2 separate regions of the Homo sapiens genome follow, and region 1 is linked to region 2. Evidence: fine-mapped expression QTL. Tissue or cell type: esophagus muscle. Region 2 holds a variant in brackets; the other region holds the start of a gene. All regions are shown on one strand. Distances are between the middles of the regions.

Region 1 (5,128 bases), 470 kb after region 2:
GAACTCCTGACCTCAGGTGATTTGCCTGCTTCGGCCTCCAAAAGCGCTGGGATTACAGGCGTGAGCCACCGTGCCCAGCCTGCTACTTCTTAAAAGTTTACAGTAATAGACAATGCTGAGGCACCCTGGGACAGTAATGCCACCGAATACCAAACTAGGACATTTTTGAGACTGAAAGGGGACAAGATCTGTAAACCTAGATTACCCTAGAGAGGTGACGTTGCTTGCTTTAATACTTTGGTTGCCTTATTAATTTTTCAAAAATTGCATCCTATTTTTTTGGTTTTCAAAATAAGAAAGACATACTTGAATAAAGTTATTTCCTCTTCAAAGTCTTTCTAGATTCCACTTTTCCCCATGCTGAGTTAAATGCCTTTCTCTTTGGTTCTGGGGCAGTGGTTCTCAATGCTAGGGGGTGGGGTAAAGCTGGAATTTTGGTCCTTTCTCCCCTAAGGGACATTTGGCAATGTTTAGAGACATTTTGGGATGCCTAGGTCAGAAGGAATGCCACCGGCATCTAGTGCGTAGAGGCCTGGGATACAGCTAAACATCCTACATTGCATAGGAAAGCCTACACAGCAAAGAATGATCAGGCCCCAAAACTTAATGGCGCCAAAGTTGAGAACCCCTGCTGTATGGTATGTTTGTCATAGCACTTCATAAAGACAGCTGTAGGCCGGGCACGGTGATTCACACCTGTAATCCCAGCATTTTGAGAGGCCAAGGTGGGTGGATCACCTGAGGTCGGGAGTTCGAGACCAGCCTGACCAACATGGAGAAACCACGTCTCTACTAAAAATACAAAATTAGCCGGGTATAGTGGTGCATGCCTGTAATCCCAGCTACTCGGGAGGCTGAGGCAGGAGAATCGCTTGAACCCGGGAGGCACAGGTTGCAGTGAGCCAAGATAGCACCATTGCACTCCAGCCTGAGCCACAAGAGCGAAACTCCGTCTAAAACAAAAACAAAAACAAAAAAAGGCCAGGAGCGGTGGCTCACTCTTGTAATCCCAACACTTTGGAAAGCCAAGGCGGGCAGATCACCTGAGGTTAGGAGTTCAAGACCAGCCTGACCAATATGGAGAAACCCTGTCTCTACTAAAAATACTAAATTAGCTGGGCGTGGTGGCACATGCCTGTAATCCTAGCTACTCGGGAGGCTGAGGCAGGAGGATGGCTTCAATCCGGGAGGCTGAGGTTGCCGTGAGCCGATATCGCGCCATTGCACTCTAGCCGGGGCAACAAAAGCAACACTCCGTATCAAAAAAAAAAAAAAAAAAAAAAAAATCTGTAATTGTCAACTGATTGACCTACCCAGCTAGACTGCAACTTTCATAAAGACAAGTGATACATGCATGTTGTAGAGTGTTTGGCTTGCAGTTGAAACTTAATAAGGATTGGAGGAAAGTGAGAAGACACATCCAGATTCAAATTTAGGGACCTGTGGGATCATGCTGTTTGGGTTTTTTTTGAGCCATTTCCCACCTCCCTTTGGGTACTAATCAGTCAACTGATAAGCATTTCATTCATTCAACTATCTATCTTATCTATCGATCATTATCATCTATTTATTTGTTTTTGAGACAGGGTCTCTCTTTGTCGCCCAGGCTGGAGTGCAGTGGCACAGTCACGGCTCACTGCAGCCTTGACCTTCCGGGCCCAAGTGATTCTCCTGCCTCAGCCTCCAGAGTAGCTCGGACCACAGGCGCTCGCCACCATCCCCGGCTAATGCTTTTGTCTTTTGTAAAGGCGGGGTCTTGCCATGTTGCCCAGGCTGGTCTTGAATTCCTGGGCTCAAGCGATCCTCCCGCCTTGGCCTTCCAAAGTGCTGGGATTACAGGAGTAACCCACCGGGCCCGGCTGGAAGCCTAATTTATACTTTTTTAAAGATCATGCTGGCTTCTCTGGGAGAATATGTAAAACATCTATTATACACAGAATCTAAAATACTTGCCATAAAGTAGTTACACTCTCGGATACCTATTGTCAAAAGGGAAGTCTCCCAGAAAATATGGGGGCGCTGTAGCCGCCGGGTCAGCCGAGTCCACTCTCTGGTACTTTTAGAGACGTCGGTCGCTTCCGGGAGAGTCCGCGTCTCCCGCACCTTCCTCTCTATCAAACGCCGTCTCTGTGGTAGCCGGGGCCCCGCCCCTCCTCGGACTCTACCCAGTACTGAACTAGGGGCAGCTGGGCTCCAGAGTCCCTCGGGTCTCAGGTCATGGCGGTCGCGGGGCCCGCGCCCGGAGCTGGCGCCAGGTAAGCAGGGCGGTCGGGGAGGAGGTTTGGGAGCAGGAGTTCCGGGCTGTAGGGAATGGGCTTTCCTGCCCTCCGTGCCTCGTCCGCCGCCCTGGCGCCCCCGTCTCGCCCCCGTGACTTCTGAGAGAAAGAGGAGCTCTCGAAGGGGCGTCCGCCCTCCCGCCGCTCTAGGCCGCTCCGCACCGGCCGCGGCCCCCTCCGTTCTTGGCCGGACTTGTGCCATCTCCTGCGGTGTGGGACCCTCACCCTCGCAACTGGCATTCTTTTTTTGAAAAGAAGAACCTCAGGTGCACAAAATTGAGTTGATCCTTCTCAGTTCTTGACACCCTGTGGGCCAATGCAAGGCTCCTTGTTTATTTTATCACTTCCTCTCTTCGTTCCTATTCCCAGACCCCTTTCACTCCCCTTTTCAGACAGCCACTCTGGTGTGTTATATAAGTGGCTTTACGGTCCACCTTGGGTAAATTTGTGCAAGTGTTACTTTGAAATCTATATAGCGGTTTCGAATTCTTCAATATAATATGCTGTGATTTTTCTTTAAACCTTTTTCCTCAACATTGTGTTTTTGAGTCCATCCATGCTAGTCATCTTGTTTTCACTTCTGAGTGCTTGCATGAGGGGTGCTGTGTGCATAGACTTATTCCCCTAGTGGTGGATAGATTTTTTTCTAGTATTAACACCCCCACAAGCCACACTGTAACGAATATTCTGGCAGTTGTCTCCTTGTGCATATTGTTGCATTTCTCTGGGTATCCACCCCAGAGTTGGGTCCTGGTCATATCTAATTTTGCTGGATTGTTCTTTGGAATGGTCACACTAGTTTATACTTCCCGACGGGCAGTGCATAAAGCTTCCTGTTTCCCGGTATCCCTCCATCGTTCAGTGGCGGCTGGTTTTGTAATGTTTATCAGTCTGGGGGGTGTAAGGTGGTATCCCATCGTGTACATTTTCTTTCTTTCTTTCTTTCTTTCTTTTGAGACGGAGTTTTGCTCTTGTTGCTCGGGCAGGAATGCAGTGGCATGATCTCGGCTCACTGCAACCTCCGCCTCGGGTTCAAGCGATTCTTCTGCCTCAGCCTCCTGAGTAGCTGGGATTACAGACGCGCGCCACCACACCCAGCTAATTTTTTGTATTTTTAGCAAAGATGGGGGGGTTGGCCAGTCTGGTCTTGAACTCCTGACCTCAGGTGATCCACCCGCCTCGGCCTCCCGAAGTGCAGGGATTACACTTCCCGACGGGCAGTGCATAAAGGAATTACAGACGTGAGCCACTGCTCCCGGCCTACATTTTCATGTGTTTATTAAACGTGGGTTTTCCCTTTTTTGAATTGCCTGTTTATATCCCTTCCCACTTCTCTGTGGATTTCCTATGTTCCTGGCTTGCAGGAATTCTTGTAGGCTCTAGATTTAGATCCTGGCCATGCCCGGTGGCTCACACCTGTCATCCTATCACTTTGGGAGGCTGAGGTAGGTGGACCACTGGAGTCCAGGAGTTCAAGATCAGCCTGGGCAACATGGTGAAACCCCATCTCTACCAAAAATACAAAAATTAGCTGAGCGTGTTGACGCACGCCCGTACTCCCAGCCACTAAAAAGGCTGAGGTGGGACAGTCGCTTGAACCCGGGAGGCAGAGGTTGCCCTGAGCTGAGATCGCACCACTGCATTCCAGCCTGGGCAACAGAGCAAGACCTTGTCTCAAAAAAAAAAAAAAAAAGATTTTAGGCCAGGCGCGGTGGCTCACGCCTGTAATCCCAGCACTTTGGGAGGCCGAGGCAGGTGGATCACCGGAGGTCAGGAGTTCGAGACCAGCCTGACCAATATGATGAAACCCCGTCTCCTACTAAAAATACAAAAATTAGCCGGGCGTGGTGGCATGCACCTGTAATTGCAGCTTGTCAGGAGGCTGACACAGGAGAATCACTTGAACCAGGGAGGCGGAGGTTGCAGTGATCCGAGATTGCGCCGTTGCATTCCAGCCTGGGCAACGAGCAAAACTCCGTCTCAAAAAAATAAAGATTTCAAGTCCTTGTTGGTTTTGCACTCTGCAGATACCACCTCCAAGTCTTCTAACTTAATCTATGGCACTGTGTTGAATAAAAACATTTAACTCTAATGAAGTTAAATTCATCAGTTTTCCCCTGTATAGGTTTTTAAGGTATCTTCATTAAGACATTTTTCTACATTTCCTTCTATTAACATGATAGTGTTACTTTTCACGTTTAGATTTTTAATCCATTTGTAATTTTTTAAGTTTTTTGTTTTTGGTTTTTTTTTTTTTTTTGAGACGGAGTTTTGCTCTTGTTGCCCAGGCTCTTGTTGCAATGGCGCAATCTCAGCTCACTGCAACCTCTGCCTCCCAGGTCCAAGCAATTCTCCTGACTCAGCCTCCCGAGTAGCTGGGATTACAGGCATGAGCCACCACGCTTGGCCAAAGAATTTCCTTTGTATCCGTGGTCTGTTCCCAGCCTACCATCTTCAGCATTTGAAAACCATTCTTTCTGCATGGCCTGGACCCTCTACAGAACAATGTGGATGAGCTTAATAACTACTCCCTAAGGCTTAATTATTGTCTTGGGCTTTTCTCTGCCTCCCCACCTTCTCTTCAGGCCCAGGTTAGATCTGCAATTTCTCCAGCGGTTCCTGCAGATACTGAAGGTTTTGTTTCCTTCTTGGTCATCACAAAATGCCTTGATGTTCCTGACCCTTTTGTGCCTGACCCTACTGGGTGAGTGAGTGAGCCCAGACTAGAGGAGGGAGGGGAGCTCTGGTTTGGGGTCCCTTTCCATCTTTTTTTTTTTTTTTTTTTTTTTTGAGACAGAGTTTCTCTCTTGTTGCCCAGGCTGGAGTGCAGTGACATAATCTCAGCTCACTGC
Region 2 (5,207 bases):
GCCACCCGCAAGTAGCCGGCACTACAGGCATGCAACACCATGCCTGGCTAGGTTTTTTTTTTTTTTGAGTCGGAGTCTCACTCTGTCGCCCAGGCTGGAGTGCAGTGGCGCGATCTCGGCTCACTGCAAGCTCCGCCTCCCGGGTTCACACCATTCTCCTGCCTCAGCTTCCTGAGAAGTTGGGACTACAGGCGCCCACCACCACGCCCGGCTAATTTTTTGTATTTTTAGTAGAGATGGGGTTTCACCATGTTAGCCAGGATGGTCTTGATCTTCTGACCTCGTGATCTGCCCGCCTAGGCCTCCCAAAGTGCTGGGATTACAGGCGTGAGCCACTGCGCCCGGCCACCTGGCTAGTTTTTTAAACTTTTTGTGGGCGGGGGGCGGGGGGGGGGGTGTCTCACTTTGTTGCCCAGGCTGGCCTTGAACTCCCGGCCTCTAATGAGCCCAAAGAACTGGGATTACAGGTGTGAGCACCCAGTCCTCCTACTTATTCTTTAGAGTTCATTTAAATATCACTTTACAGGCCCGGCGTGGCAGCTTACGCCTGTAATCCCAGCACTTTGGGAGGCCGTAGCAGGTGGATCACGAGGTCAGGAGTTCAAGACCAGCCTGGCCAAGATGGTGAAACCTCTTCTGTACTAAAAATACAAAAAAAAATGGCCGGGCACTCTGACTCACACCTGTAACCCCAGCACTTTGGGAGGCTGAGACAGGCAGATCACCTGGGGTCAGGAGTTCGAGACCAGCCTAGCCAACATGGTGAAACCTCGTCTCTACTAAAAATACAAAAATTAGCCAAGCGTGGTGGCAGGCGCCTGTAATCCCAGCTACTCCTGGGAGTAGCTGAGGCAGGCTGAGGCAGGAGAATTGTTTGAACCCGGGAGGCAGAGGTTGCAGTGAGCCGAGATCGTGCCATTGCACCCCAGCCTGGGCAACAAGAGTGAGACTTCGTCTCCAAAAAAAAAAAAAAAAAAAAAAAAAAAAAGATAAAAATACAAAAAAATTAGCCGGGCGTGGTGGCAGGCACCTGTAATCCCAGTTACTAGGGAGGCTGAGGCAGAAAATTGCTTAAACCCGGAAGGCGGAGGTTGCAGTGAGCCGAGATCGCGCCACTGCACTCCAGCCTGGGCAACAGAGCGAGACTCCATCTCAAAAAAATAAAAATAAATAAAATAAAATAAAAACAAATAAAAAATAAAAAATATCACTTTACAAAGGGAATCCTCTTTAATTAGGTTAGCGCTCCCAGCTATATTCAATTATTTAAAATATATTTGTTCTCCACCTCCTATGCGCTAGATCCTATGCAAGGTACTGTGAATACAGTGGTAACTTAAAAAAAAAACAAAAAACAAAAAACTTGCCTTTGCCAGTTCCTTGGGGAATAATCTAGTGATATTTTATAATCCCATAGCACTCTGTACGTCTCCTCTTAATTACTTACTAAATGTCTTCTCCCTTCCCCCACAACTGAAACAAGAAGTCAATGAGGGCAGGTCCCATGTCTATCTTGTTAACCATTTCATCTCCAGTATTAAGCACAGTACTCATAGTACCTGGCACATAGTTGCTAGTCCGTAAGTATTTAAACATTAAATAAATGATACCTCTAAAAACTAATCAAAGCCAACAGCTTTAACTAAATAAATCAGTCCTTTAAACACATAGAAAAATTAATTATTCAAAAAGACACATTCCGACCGGGCGCAGTGGCTCACGTCTATAATCCCAGCACTTTGGGAGGCCGAAGCAGGTGGATCACTTGAGGTCAGGAGTTCGAGACCAGCCTGACCAACATGGTGAAACCCCATCTCTATTAAAAATACAAAAACTAGCCAGGCATGGTAGCATGCACCTGTAATCCCATATACTTGGGAGGCTAGGGCAGAATTGTTTGAACCCAGGAAGTGGAAGTTGCAGTGAGCCGAGATTTCACCACTGCACTCCAGCCTGAGCGACAGAGTGAGACTCTCTCTCAGAAACAAACAAA[CAAAA/A]AAACACATTCCATTAAATCATCAACACTTTACCCGAAAAACTAGAAAACACCTGGAAAAATATCAAGTATTTATCTTGTCCTTCCTATACCAACTGTATTTCCAATCAAATATCTGTGGCAAAAGTTTTTCTTTACATAACTCCATATAGTAACTGTGGAAGAAATGGCAGAAAAAAAAAATCACCAGGTTGCAACCTCTGTCTAATGAAATAATTTACTTAGGCAAGGTCTTTCTTCAATTGATGAACCAGTAGACTGAAACATTAGATGCAAGATTGATAGAAAGCTTTACAGTAGAGGGACCAATGGCATTACTAACAGTGGGACAACCAGGCATCGGGTGTCCCATGAGGAATGCAACACTTGCCAAAAGAAAGCTGAACTTAAATGAAGGTTCCAGAGTTAACTTCTAATTCAAAAAAAAAAAAAATGTGGAAGACATAGGAACAAGTCAAATGTGACACCATGAAAAAGCAGACAATGCAGAATGTCAGACATTCTACAGGAAAACTGACAACAGATTTTTCATCAAGTTCAAAGACATGAGGTAGAAAAAGAAAATAGGAGGGACTGACCTAGGTCAAGGGTTCTCAACAGAGGGTAATTTTGTCTCCAGGGGATACTTGGCAATGTGTGGAAACATTTTTGGTTGTCGGACTGGGGGCTGCCACTGGCATCTAATGGGTAGAGGTCAGGGACGCTGTTAAACATCCTACAATGCATAGGACAAGCCCCTCCACAACAAAGAATCATCCTGCCCAAAATGTCCATAGTGCCGAAGCTGAGAAACCCTGATCTATACTAAGAATCTTTTCAGTATTCTGTTTGGACTCTGACTTGAACACACCAAAAAAACATTGTTTGGGAACAGACTGTGAGGACAGAAAACAACAACACTGTTGAGTCAATTTGGGGTATTTTAACATGGATGGTATCAAAGAATTATTTTTAGTTCATTAGTATGATGAAACAATAAAGGAAATCTGAACGGATCAGGTATTAGATGATACCAAGAAACTGTTAACTTTGTTAGGTGTTAACAATGTGTTTATCTAAGAAAGGGTCTTGGCCGGGCACGGTGGCTCACGCCTGTAATCCCAGCACTTTGGGAGGCCAAGGCAGCTGGATCATGAGGTCAGGAGTTCAAGACCAGCCTGACCAACATGGTGAAACCCCGTCTCTACTAAAAATACAAAAATTAGCCAGGCGTGGTGGCATGCACTTGTAATCCCAGCTACTCAGGAGGCTGAGGCAGGAGAATCGCTTGAACCCGGGAGGCAGAGGTTGCAATGAGCCAAGATCGCGCCACTGCACTCCAGCCTGGGCAACAGTGTGAGACTCCATCTCAAAAAAAAAAAAAAAAAAGAAAAGGTCTTGGTTTTGTTTTGTTTTGTTTTATAGAGGTACTTGACTAAGAATGTAGGGATGAAATGACATAAGATCTAAGATTTGCTTTAAAATATTTCAGCAGAGGCCAGGTGTGGTGGTTCATGCCCATAATCCCAGCACTTTGAGAGGTCAAGGCAGTGTACTGTTTGAGCTCAGGAGTTCAAGACCAGCCTGGGCAACATAGCAAAACCCCGTCTCTACCAAAAAAAAAAAAAAAAAAAAATAGCCAGGCATGGTGGCATGCACCTGTAGTCCCAGCTACTTGGGATGGCTTGAGCCTGGGAGGCAGAGGTTGCAGTGAACTGAGACTATGCCACTACACTCCACCCTGGGTGACTGACAGAGCAAGACCCTGTCTCAATATATATATATGCAACAATAATAAAAAAGGCCTAGGTGAAGTAAACATGGCAAAATCTTGATAGCTGTTGAATCTCAATGATGGGTATGTATGGGGAATCATACTTTTTTCTCTATTTTGTGTATTTTAAAAATATTTCACGATAAGAAATTTTGAATGACACATTCCAAAAACAAAATATGAATCAAAGAATAATAAATATGTAGAAGGATTGCCAGAGACTGGTACTGGCATGAAGAAATATTTATCATCTAATAAACCAACATATCCTAAGTCTAGAACATGACAACTCTCGTATTTTATTCAACAAATCTGTGGAGAGCCTACAATTTGCAAGGCACTGTCCTAGGTGCTACGGTAATAAGAAGATAAGTAAGATAATTCCTGTCTGCAAGGGACTTACAATCTGAAGAACAGAACCAAACCAGATGGGTGAGCACAAGCAGGGCTTCATGGAAACCTTGATATTTGAGATATGCCTTGAAAGCAATACAACTCTAAGGGGAAACAGAGGGTTGAGGAGGTTAGGATGAATTCTAAAAAGAAGAAAGAAAGCCACAGGCTTCAAGGCTCTTCTTGATCTGGTCTATGTGCACCACAAGTCTCATTTTCCACCACTCTGCCTCTCACCAAAGAATTGCAGGCACTGAATATTCAAGACACTGAGTTCATTACAGAAAAGGGTACAAAGGCAGAAAAGTAAAAGCACTGTTCATGGTAACTATACATATTAAGGCCTGATCTGACACACACACTCCTCCCAAAAAAAGCCAAAAATACAATTATTTTGTCTCTCTGTAAGGTCAGAAAAACAGTCTAGTAGAGTGAGAATATAAATGTCCTATTTTGGCTCAGACTAACTGAGAATGTTTGACAACAAAAGCACTAAAGACTTCAGAGTGGGGTGGGAAAGAGGACAGAAAGTCTGTCTCTATAATAGAGCAATCTGGGGAAAATAAACTGGTGAGATGGTACAAATTTGATGTAAGCCAACAGAATCATTATTCTACTACTTTATTTCAGCATCCCAAGTGTTTTCTCCAGAAGATGTGCCAAGCATCATTTCTTAAAACAACTTGCTTCTGTTCTTAATTTCTAATGCCAAACCACCGTAAAATTATAATACTGCATCCCTATCTTTTGGAAATCTTTTATAGGTAAATCTGAGCGTTTATATTACAAGATTCTCTTTTTTCCTTAGTGAATCTAAGGTAAATTAGTAATCGCTGAAAAAGTGTCTACTTTAGGAAATCATAACAATTGATTTATTCTGCTTTAGTTTGACCTTCCCTCTCTCAAGGGGGAACTCGTTTATTACTGTTACCCTGTCAATTTGTCTGTTCTGCGGGATAAGAATGGCTGACTCTCTCATGAAAAGATATCACCAAACTTTTTTTACGTTGGCCAAATTGCAAGGCTGTTTCTTTGGAGTGAATGGTAATGACAATGAAACGCAGA

Evidence for each region. PIP is the estimated chance that this variant, and not a neighbour inherited with it, causes the effect.
Region 1: ABCD4 starts here. The variant in region 2 is fine-mapped to the expression of ABCD4 in esophagus muscle (GTEx, PIP 0.95).

Annotation. Positions count from the first base shown.
Region 1 is chr14:74,300,002-74,305,129 of GRCh38, reverse strand. ABCD4 (ATP binding cassette subfamily D member 4) reads left to right here and starts at 2,196. Exons shown (of 19, transcript NM_005050.4): 1 at 2,196-2,255; 2 at 4,862-4,980. The coding sequence starts at 2,218. It also overlaps a transcript of VRTN not described here. RefSeq lists an enhancer at 1,748-2,107 and a silencer at 2,368-2,447.
Region 2 is chr14:74,765,041-74,770,247 of GRCh38, reverse strand. The region is part of intron 1 of YLPM1 (YLP motif containing 1); the gene reads right to left. Among named protein-coding and RNA genes, the nearest start is that of YLPM1, 4.3 kb to the right of the region's middle. The variant CAAAA/A (reference allele first, on the strand shown) is at 1,994.